Homo sapiens: one gene and its partners. The protein of the gene in region 2 purifies or fractionates together with the protein of the main gene of each other region. This does not show direct contact. Each region holds a gene or a part of one and is shown on either strand. Other genes may lie near its edges. The genes, in order: LRP5, RASD2 and LRP6.

The links.
Region 1: the proteins of RASD2 (region 2) and LRP5 purify together in Homo sapiens (affinity purification with mass spectrometry; 3 studies listed by BioGRID and IntAct, with this or other methods). This does not show direct contact.
Region 3: the proteins of RASD2 (region 2) and LRP6 purify together in Homo sapiens (affinity purification with mass spectrometry; 3 studies listed by BioGRID and IntAct, with this or other methods). This does not show direct contact.

What each region holds. Positions count from the first base shown.
Region 1 is NC_000011.10:68,441,462-68,445,112, forward strand, and holds part of LRP5 (low-density lipoprotein receptor-related protein 5 isoform 1 precursor), read left to right. Parts: intron 1-3,651. UniProt on the Homo sapiens protein: Acts as a coreceptor with members of the frizzled family of seven-transmembrane spanning receptors to transduce signal by Wnt proteins.
Region 2 is NC_000022.11:35,547,214-35,550,864, forward strand, and holds part of RASD2 (GTP-binding protein Rhes precursor), read left to right. Parts: intron 1-3,651. UniProt on the Homo sapiens protein: GTPase signaling protein that binds to and hydrolyzes GTP. Regulates signaling pathways involving G-proteins-coupled receptor and heterotrimeric proteins such as GNB1, GNB2 and GNB3.
Region 3 is NC_000012.12:12,256,970-12,260,620, forward strand, and holds part of LRP6 (low-density lipoprotein receptor-related protein 6 isoform b precursor), read right to left. Parts: intron 1-3,651. UniProt on the Homo sapiens protein: Component of the Wnt-Fzd-LRP5-LRP6 complex that triggers beta-catenin signaling through inducing aggregation of receptor-ligand complexes into ribosome-sized signalosomes.

The DNA of each region.
Region 1 (3,651 bases), on a different chromosome or scaffold from region 2:
CAGTAACTGAGTGTTCTGGAGGCCCCAGGGCCTGGCTTTGTTTAGGGACAAAGGGAACTGGTAACCAGAAGCCGAGAGTTTAAACACCCACTGCCCTTCTTCCCTGCTCCTGCTGCTGCAACCCAGCTTAACCAGCCAGGAGTGCTAGGAACCCAAGCAGGGCCCCCGAGCACACAGCAGGCAGCTCACGAATTCTCTTTTCCTGTTCTCCCTTGGGAGCTGGGAGGATCTTAATCAGGCAATAAGAGATGGCACTGAGCAGCCAGCTAATTTTTTAAATCACTTTATTGTTTAACCATATGACTCACCCACTTAAAAAAGGGTACAGTTCAGTGGGTTTTAGTGTATTCACAGATGTGTGCAACCCTCACCACAGTTAATTTTAGAACATTTTCCTGCCCCTAAAAGAAACTCTGCATGAAGCCAGCTGTTTTTAAATTAGCAAAGTTATTTTGCATCCTTTAAATATATGTTCATGGTACAAAATTCAAAAGATACAGAAGAGTCTGCAGTCCAAAGAGACTCCGCCCCCATGACGCCAAGCAGGACTCCCTGGGAGGCATGGCCTCCTGCAGTGTGTTTCTTCTATGTCCCCCCAGGGGTCATCTGTACATATGCAAGCATACAAGAGCGTGGACTTTGTTTTCCAAGCCAGAAGATAATTGTAGATTTATGTGCAGTTGTGAGAAAGAGCACAGACCCATTTATCCTCTGCCTGGTTTCCCCCAGTGCTGCCTGCCATCTTGCATGACTTCCATTCCTATCATAAGCAAGACACTGATAACGATTCTTTCACCTTATTCAGATTGACATAAGTGTTTTTTGTTTGTTCTTGAGACAAACTTCCTCTGTCACCCAGTGGGAGTGCAGTGGCACAATCACAGCTCACTGCAGCCTCAAACTCCTGGGCTCAAGCGATTCTCCTGCCTCAGTCCCCTCAAGTAGCTCAGATGGCAGGTGTGCACCATCATGCCAGGCTAATTTTTAAATTTTTTGTGGAGGTGAGGCCTCACTAAATTTCCTGGGCTAGTCTTGAACTCCTGAGCTAAAGTGATCCTCCTGCCTCAGCCTCCCAAAGTGGTAGGATTACAGGCATGAGCCACTGCGCCTGGGCTGACATATGTGTTTTCGTAAGCCCGAAAGATAGCATCTGAAGAGTCAACATTGAGCCTTGCCTTTTGCTGCTAACGATGTATAAAAGCTGCTGTTCTGAGCATTTCGGAGGCTCCCAGCTGCCGTGTGCACCCTGCCTAGAGCTCTACCGTAACCCATCTCCGGGAGGAGGTGCTATTGTTTTCCTCATTTTGCAACAAGGAGGCTGAAGAACTGAGCATGAACCACTGGCCTGGGTCGTTCGGTTGGTAGGCAGTGGGGCCAGGCCATCCAACTCACAACCACCTTCTACTCTGCTTCCCCCGCACCCTGAAGTTTGTTCTGTTTTGAGGACACAGCCGTCACATTCTTGGTGGCTGAACAGCACTCCTTGTCAGGCGTGGCTGGGCCCCCACTGGAGGGCATCATGGTCCTCTCTCCTGCTGCGGTTGAACCTTGGCTGTTTCAACCACTCCTGCCAAGTGGCCCTCTGAAAGGGACAGTCCATCTTTTCTCAGCAGAGGGCCACACTGGCAAAACGGTCCCTGGCACCCTTTCTCTCCACCTGTCTAATATAGAGTAAAAATGGTATCATGTTAAGATCTTCATTTATATTTATTTTATCATGAATGATGTAAGCATCATTTTGTGTGTTTAAGAACCTTTGGGCCCAGCGTGATGGCTTGCAGCTGTAATCTCAGCACTTTAGGAGGCTGAGATGAGCGGATCACTTGAGGCCGGGAGTTTGAGACCAGCCTGGCCAACATGGAGAAACCCCGTCTCTAGTAAAAATTTAAAAATTAGCCGGGTATGGTGATCCCAGCTACTTGGGAGTCTGAAGCATGAGAATTGCTTGAACATGGGAGGCGGAGGTTGCAGTGAGCCGAGATCGCGCCATTGCACTCCAGCCTGGGCGACAGAGCGAGACTCTGTCTCAAAAAAAAAAAAAAAAAAGAAAAGAAAAGAAATTATCAATCTCCTCTTTTATGGCATATATATATATATATATATATATATATATATATATATATATTTTTTTTTTTTTTGGTTATGTTCAGAAAGGCCTTCCCTGCTCTGATCATAAAAAACAACTTATTTTCACACTCTCTCTCTTTTTTTTTTGAGACAGAGTTTTGCTCCTGTTGCCCAGGCTGGAGTGCAGTGGCGCAATCTCAGCTCACTGTAACCTCCGCCTCCCGGGTTGGAGTGATTCTCCTGCCTTACCTTCCCGAGTAGCTGGGATTATAGGCATGCACCACCATGCCTGGCTAATTTTGTACTTTTAGTAGAGACGGGGGTTTCTCCATGTTGGTCAGGCTGGTCTCGAACTCGCGACCTCAGGTGATCCACCCACCTCGGCCTCCCAAAGTGCTGGGATTACAGACGTGAGCCACCATGCCCAGCCCACACTCTCTTTCTTAACGTCCTCCTCCTTTCGTTTTACGTTCACATCTTTAATTCTTCTGGGATGTAATTAGATTTGATGAGCAAGGTGGGCATCCAGCTTGTTTCTTGGCTGATGGCTTATGGGTGGCGTGAATTAGTCGGGGTCTATCAGGAGGCAGAAACTCTATGAGAATTTGAACAGAGAAAGTTCCGTCTACAGGCTTATTACCAGGGACTGGAATAGCAGAAATTGAACAGTGAGATGTACAGAGAACTCTAAGAATGCAGGAATAGGCCAGGCATGGTGGCTCACACCTGTCATCCCAGCACTTTGGGAGACCAAGGCGGGTGGATCACCTGAGGTCAGGAGTTCGAGACCAGCCTGGCCAACATAGTGAAACCCCATCTCTACTAAAAATACAAAAAAATTAGCTGGGTGTGGTGGCGCATGCCTGTAATCCCAGCTTCTCGGGAGTCTGAGGCTGGAGAATCACTTGAACCTGGGAGGCAGAGGTTGTAGTGAGCCGAGATCATGCCATTGTACTCCAGCCTGGGCAACAAGAGCGAGACTCAGTCAAAACAACAACAACGCAGGAATAGCAGATGAGCCGAGTGGCCTCCCCAGCCCCCACCCCCCACCCCCCACCCTGGGCCGAGATCCAGTCCTCTTTGAATAGGGCCTGGCCGTGGTTCACGGGACATCTGAGACATTGCCGAGGCGCTGCACTGGTGGATCTTGCCAGAAGTCTGCCCAGTGCAGATTTGGGCAGAATCTCAAACTGCCTTGGGATGTAGGAGAGAAACCAGGCCTGGTCAAGTTCATGGGAAGAGGTGGAAACAGACCCCATAGGCTGGGGCTTGGGCAGCTGTAGGAAGCCCTCTCTGCTGCCTCCCTGCCTGCTCTCTGCTTTGAAGCATCTTCCCCAGTGCCCCCAGTCTCATGCCCTCTCAACGTTGGGGTCAAATCCTGAGGAATACCCAGACTGGCTCTCTGGGCCAAAGAGGACCCTCTCCAGAAAGAGCAGGGCCCAGTGCGGCTTCCTAAAGGGCAGGGGAAGGGCCTGGCCACTCCCCAGAGGCTACTCACCAGCCATCAGGATAGCCCCAGGAAGCAGGCCTTCTCGAGCCCATTTTATTACTTTATTTTATTATTTTATTTAATTTTAAATTTAT
Region 2 (3,651 bases):
CAGAGAGGTTTTGCCATGTGCTGGAAATAGTGATGAAGTCGGGGGCCCCGATTCCATTCTGTTAGACTCCAGATCGATTACTCATGGCTGTCGGGGCCGCCTTCCAGATCAGGAGCTGATACCAGCATGCCCCAGGGATATTCCTTTCTAGGGAACAGAATGATGCCCTGGCTGCTGCTTTCCTTCTCCGGAAGATGACCCACCAGAGCTCCAGGGCCCAAGGTCAGTCCACGGGGCTCAGGTCTCCCACACCCCAGGCCTTTGCCACCTCCTAGAGAGGTAAGGGCAGGACCCAGGCAGTGATCACCAAAGGGAAGGGGGCTTGGTCATGGTCATAGTGATGGTGATGGCACTAGCTGACACTTATCAGAAGCTATGGGCCTGGCCCTGTTCTTAGAGCTTGGCATGTAGTTTTTTTTGAAACAGAGTCTCGCTCTGTCACCCAGGCTGGAGTGCAGTGGCGCGATCTCGGCTCACTGCAACCTCTGCCTCCCGGGTTCAAGCGATTCTCCTGCCTCAGTCCCCCAAGTAGCTGGGACTACAGGCATGTGCCACCATGCCCGGCTAATTTTTTGTATTTTTACTAGAGACGGGATTTCACCATGTTAGCCAGGATGGTCTCGATCTCCTGACCTCGTGATCTGCCTACCTCAGCCTCCCAAAGTGCTGAGATTACAGGCGTCAGCCACCGCGGCCAGCCAGCATGTAGTTATTTAACCCTCATAGTAAATAGTTATTCATTCCCTTTTTACAAGTGGGGAAACTGAAGCCCAGAGAGGTTAAGTAACTCACTCCAGTGGTAGCACAGCTCGTAAAGGCAGTCTGCTTTTGTGCTTTCAGACAAAGCCATACCACAGCCTCTCAGCCCTGCTGGGAAGGGTGAGGAGGGACAGGGAGGTTGGGGGGAAGAAGGGGTGAGTGGAGCTGAGGGGCTGTGCCCTTGTTTACACTGCATTAGCATGGTAGCTAAGAGGACAAGCCCGGGACCCAGCACCTGGGTGTGAGCCCTGGTTCCGCTGCTTCCTGGCTTTGTACCTCGAGGCAAGGGATTTTATCTCCTTGTGTCTCAGCACTCTCATCTGTAAGACTGCACCACATCAACACTCATCCTAAAGGGACTGTGAGACTTAAATGAATGAATATATGTAAGGCGCTTGGTGAGCAGATAGTAAATGCACAATAAATCCCCAAGTCTTCTGTTGAGTCAGCATTTGCAAGTGGGCCTGCTACGGGTTACACGATCATTTCCCAAGTCACGCCCCTGAAGTTGCTGAGCAGGGATAAGGGAAGGAGTGAGCAGGCAACTCTCTAGGCATCATTCAGATAACCCCCCAACTGAGGTACTTCTATACAGAGAAACCCATGCCACTCCCAGCCCTGCTGCCGCCTTGAGGCCAAGACTGAGGCTGCGGGGTGGCCCCTCCTTGAGTGCTTTCTCTTCCAGGCTGGCTTTTCCGAGCATCTGACCCAGACAGCAGTCAAGTTCTCCGCTCCACCCCGAGTTTTGGAGAAGGGGCATGTAGATAGGAGAGCCCTGGGTCGACCTGTGTTCGAATCCTTGCTGGGCCTCTTGGCTTAAATGTGTGACCAGAGGCACATGCATCCTGTCTGAGTCTCAGCCTCCCCAGCCACACAGTGGGCTTAACCTCATACCCCGCAGGGAGGCTGTGAGGACTGCAAGAAGGCTTGTGGCGGGAGCTTCCAGCACGTGACGGGTATTGCATTGGTGTCAGCTCCCCCAGCCTTGGGGAGGGGACTGGGTACCCGCTGCAATGAATAAGGCTAATGACAGAGGGAAGGAGAGGGGAGATGTAGAGAGGAAGCACATGCATATTTTCAGCATTAATTTTCAGTGACACAAGTAATACCCAAACACACCCTCCTGCAAACGCTACAGATAAAGCTAATGCCCCTTTGACCCATGTCCCCAATCCCAGGCTCCTGCCCCTGCCCCGGAGGTGGCCACCCTGGCAGTCTGGCATGGAGCCTTCCGGGCCTCCGTGACTACACCGGCATTCGTATTTGTATCCCCACAATGGAGAGTATTTTTGTCTGTCTCTTTTTTATGGCGCATATCATTCTGAGCACAGCTGTCTGATGCTTGTTTTTTTTTCACACACCAACCCGTGCCTCATTTTCCAACCTGGTGGAACCTCATTTTTTCAACCTCATTTTCCTGCTGCTCAGGAAATTCTGAAAGCCATTAATTCCACTGCCAGCTCTTCTTCCAGCTGCCAGACGGGCCGATCTCTGATGCTTGGCATCGCAGTCTCGCATTTGAATATGTCAAGGCCACGAGTCCTCAGGGGCCCCGGATTAGCCTAACGGGATGGGGTTTGGCAGCCCAAGCAGGAAGAGTTGCCAAGCTGACGCTGCCTCGCAAGTGCCTTTCAGAAGAGCCCACACTGCAGTTCCCTCCATCACCTCCCATCCATTCAGGCTTCCTTGGTTAACACTGACTGTGTGCCAGGCCCTGGGGAGACCAGGACGAGTGGGTGATGGAACCCTTCTCTGTGCCCGAGCTGTTTGGAGCACACCTTTGATCTGGACACCATTCTGAATGTGCCATGTGCCATTAAATGGGGGTAAATGATGTGCTCTGGGGGTGCAGAGGAAGGTGGCAGCCATTCTGCCAGAAGCTGGAACTGGTTGCTTCTCTTCTCAAGAATTTGGGCCAATTGCTGATTCCTCTGGGCCTCAGTTTCCTCATCTGTGAGACAGGGATCTTGTCACACCACAAGGCTATCAAGAGTTTGAGCAAAAGTGGTTGGACGCAGTGGCTCATGCCTGTAATCCCAGCTCTTTGGGAGGCCGAGGTGGGCAGATCTCTTGAGGTCAGGAGTTCAAGACCAGCCTGGCTAACACAGTGAAACACCGTCTCTACTAAAAAATACAAAAAATTAGCCAGGTGTGGTGATGGGCACCTGTAATCCCAGTTACTCGGGAGGCTGAGGCAGGAGAATCTCTTGAACCCAGGAGGTGGAGGTTGCAGTGAGCTGAGATCTTGCCATTGCATTCCAGGCTGGGCAACAAGAGTGAAACTCTGTCTCAGAAAATAAATAAATAAATAAATAAAAAATAGCTAGGCATGGTGACAGGCGCCTGTAATCCCAGCTGCTCCAGAGGCTGAGGCAGGAGAATCGCTTAAACCCAGGAGGTGGAAGTTGCAGTGAGCCAAGATCACACCACTGCACTCCAGCCTGGGCCACAGAGAAAGACTCCATCTCAAAAAAAAAAAAAAAAAAAAAAAAGTTTAAGCAAAAGTGAGGAAGGTGCTTATTAAAAGCTGGAAATCAGGATGGAGGTACCAGTCCAGACAGCCTCCCCACCACCCCACCGTCTCCACAGCAGCCCCTGTTTCAGATTCACAAGCCTGCCTTGAGTGATGCAGTGAGTTATCCTGGAGGCAGTGTGGGCCTTGGAGGCCAGCACTCACTTTTTCATCCTATGATTTATTTGAGAAGCAGAGAGCACCTACCGGGTGCCAGGCACGAGCTAGGTGAGAACAGAATCAGGTAGAAATCTCAGCCTAGCCACACGGAAGCTGTGTGATCTTGGGCAGGCTGCATACCCTTTCTGAGCCTCAGTTTGCTCACCTGTAATGCAAAGGTAACAAAATCTTGACAGAGGCATAGTGAGGAATCAAGAGAA
Region 3 (3,651 bases), on a different chromosome or scaffold from region 2:
TGAATGAACCCTGAAAATGCTAAGTGATAGAAGCTAGACACAAAAGGCCACATATTTTATTCCATTTATATGAAATATTCAGAGTAAGCAAATCCATAGAGACAGAAAGTAAATTCATGGTTACCAGAGGCTGAGGGAAGGGAGAAATGGGAAATGTATGGGTTTTGAGGGAGCAGGGGATGATAAGCGTTCTGGAATGAGATAGTGGTGATGTTTTACAACCCTGTGAGTATACTAAAAGCCACCGAACTAGACATTGTAAAATGGAGATTTTTACTGTATGTGAATTATAGCTCCAAAAAACTTGGTTTAAAAAAGTACTTGACAGGCCGGGTGCGGTGGCTCACGCCTGTAATCCCAGCACTTTGGGAGGCCGAGGCGGGTGGATCACGAGGTCAGGAGATCAGACCATCCTGGCTAACACGGTAAAACCCCGTCTCTACTAAAAAAATACAAAAAAAATTAGCTGGGCGTGGTGGTGGGCGCCTGTAGTCCCAGCTACTTGGGAAGCTGAGGCGGGAGAATGGCATGAATCTGGGAGGCGGAGCTTGCAGTGAGCCGAGATCACGCCACTGCACTCCAGCCTGGGCGACAGAGCAAGACTCCCTCTCAAGGAAAAAAAAAAAAAAAAGTACTTGATAGAAAGGGCTTAATGAAAAAAAAAAAAGAAAGAAAGAAAAAAGTACTTGAGGCCAGGCATGGTGGCTCATGCCTGTAATCGCAAGCACTTTGGGAAACCAAGGCAGGAGGATCACTTGAGCCCAGGAATTCGAGACCAGTCTGAGCAACATAGTAAGACCCTGTCTCTACAAAAAAAAAAAAAAAAAAAAAAAAAAAAAAATTAAAAATGAGCCGGGCGTGGTAGCACGTGCCTATAGTCCCAGCTACTCTGGAAGCTGAGGCAGGAGGATCGCCTGAGACCAGGAGGTCCAGGCTGCAGTGAGCCATGATAGCATCACACCACACTCCAGCCTAGGAAACACAGTGAGACCCTGTCTCAAAAAAAAAAAAAAAACTAATTATATCAGTGCAATAGTTATATCCTAAAACCAGAAAACACGTTACATAGTCCACACCTTGAATTCAATCTCAGATATGAATATGCTGATTTTTTAGTAGTCTATTTAACATATCTAATCTATGCTAAGAAATCTTTATTTATTTATTTTGAAAGACAGGGTTTTGTCTGTGATATGGAGTGCAGTGGCATGATCATGGCTCACTGTAGCCTTGAGTTCCTGGGCTCAAGTGATCCTCCTGCCTCAGCCTTCTAAGCAGCTGAAACTACAGGCATGTGCCATCGTGACCAGATAATTTTTTAATTTTTTATAGATGTTTCCCAGGCTGGTCTTGAACTCCTGACCTCAAGTGATCCTCTCGCCTTGGCCTCCTAAAGAGATGGGATTACAGGTGTGAGCCACCATGACCCAGACTAAGAAATCTTTGTAATCGTTACAAATTTATAATTTAACTATAGCTAATGAACGATTGAGTCAAAACACAAAATGGCATTCCAAATAAATGTCATAAAAATTCACATCTTTTTATATTACTTTAAATGTAAAATTTACAGTGCTCAATATGTGCAAACCTCTGGTACATGGTGCATATAAAGGGGAAAAAGGTCTACTCTTCAAAAACTTTTCATCAAAGAGCTATTTCTGCATTAGCATAAATCTAGAAGGTTACAAATAAAGACAATATAATGTGTAGCTAAGAATTCATGGTAATGAAGTTCACTCGTCACCTTTCTCAGACTTGCAAAACATAGTATCTTTAAACTGGATATATGGATATACAGTACTTAAATTATACGTACCAATAAAGCTAATCATTAGTGAGGAAGACTCCTATCCCTTGCAGTCCTTTACTTGTAGTTTGGGTCTTGTAGTGATAAAACAATGACTAAGACCATTAGAGAAAATAGCCTCCTGGTTAAACATACATAATTTGATAAAGGTAGGTTTCCAATATTTGGGTGACTATTTTCTTGGGAAAAAAAAAATGACAGCTGTGTGCAGCAGGCTCACGCCTGTAAGCCCAGCACTTTGGAAGGCCAAAGCGGGTGGACCACCTGAGGTCAGGAGTTCGAGACCAGCCTGGCCAACATGGTGAAACCCCATCTCTACTAAAAACACAAAAATTAGGTAGGCATGATAGTGGGCGCCTACTAATCCCAGCTACTTGGGAGGCTGAGACAGGAGAATCACTTGAACCCAGGAGGCAGATGTCACAGTGAGCCAAGATCATGGCACGGCACTCCAGCCTGGGTGACAGAGCGAGACTCCATCTCAAAAAAAAAAAAAAAAAAAGACTACTGCTGGTCATGTTATTTTTATTGAGAGTCTCATCAATAACTTTAGGCCTGGTGTTAATAACTTACATAACTTAATGTAGTTTTCTGCCTAAAAATATAATTTCATTTTGCATCCCCAATCTCCTCCTGAAATTAGTTCCAAAATATTTAAGCACTTATACAAGGTCCTTCCAAGCAAGATATTACAGAAACTACAAGTTATGATACCGCTAAAAGGATCACAGCATCAAAGTATCAATAATTTTCACCGAAGAGTCCAAGCACATTTTAAAAGTTTCTAGCCTCACACCCGAACAGCTTGAACCTTTAGTGAGAATACTCACTGCCGCAAACACGAACAGCTTGAGAAACAAAAGCATATGTTAATAATACCAAATAACCTTGTTTCCTTGCATTTATGTACTGACAAATTGTATTTTAAAATAAATAATTTTAAGAGCAAACAGCCTGTTCTTAGATTGCCTAGTCTGTATATTTGACTAAATTTCAAAGTTACTCATATAAAACAGTGTTTTATTCACTGAAGTGAGGCTTACTTTATAGAAGATAAACACCCTTATCCGAAGTGAAAACATGCAATGCAGAAACTCAGTATAGCATTCAGCCATCCTGCAGAAAGAAATCCACCAACTGAATAATTGTTGTAAACAAATAATGCAATTTCTCAATTAGATGTCTTGATAAAATTATTTTGCCCATGCTTAACTCTTTAATAAGTATCACAATCATTTGAACTGTCTGTTCTGTAGCTTATTTATAATAATCATCACCTAAAATAGTTATGGCTGCAATCCTTTAGAAATAAATTTAGGCCAGGCGCGGTGGTTCACGCCTGTAATCCCAGCACTTTGGGAGGCCGAGGCGGCTGGATCACCAGGTCAGGAGATGGAGACCAACCTGGCTAACATGGTGAAACCCCGTCTCCACTAAAATACAAAAAAAATTAGCCGGGCGTGTTGGCGGGGCCTGCAGTCCCAGCTACTCGGGAGGCTGAGGCAGGAGAATGGCGTGAACCCGGGGGGCGGAGCTTGCAGTGAGCCGAGATTACGCCACTGCACTCCAGCCTGGGCGACTGAGCAAGACTCCGTCTCAAAAAAAAAAAAAAGAAAAAAAATTTAGTGTCATTCCGTTTTATATCAAACAAAACAGAAATTTCCATAAGTAAAAGTATTTTATGGAGCTTTTATTCCAGTTGCAGAAGAATCAAAAAAAATTCCAAAACCACTGGCCTAAAACTATCAACTGCCAAAAACAGTGCCCAGGACATAGCGACACTTAAAATGTTTTACCAGTCTTTCCAGAGTATAATGTTTCTTTTAATTCGGCCATCTTAA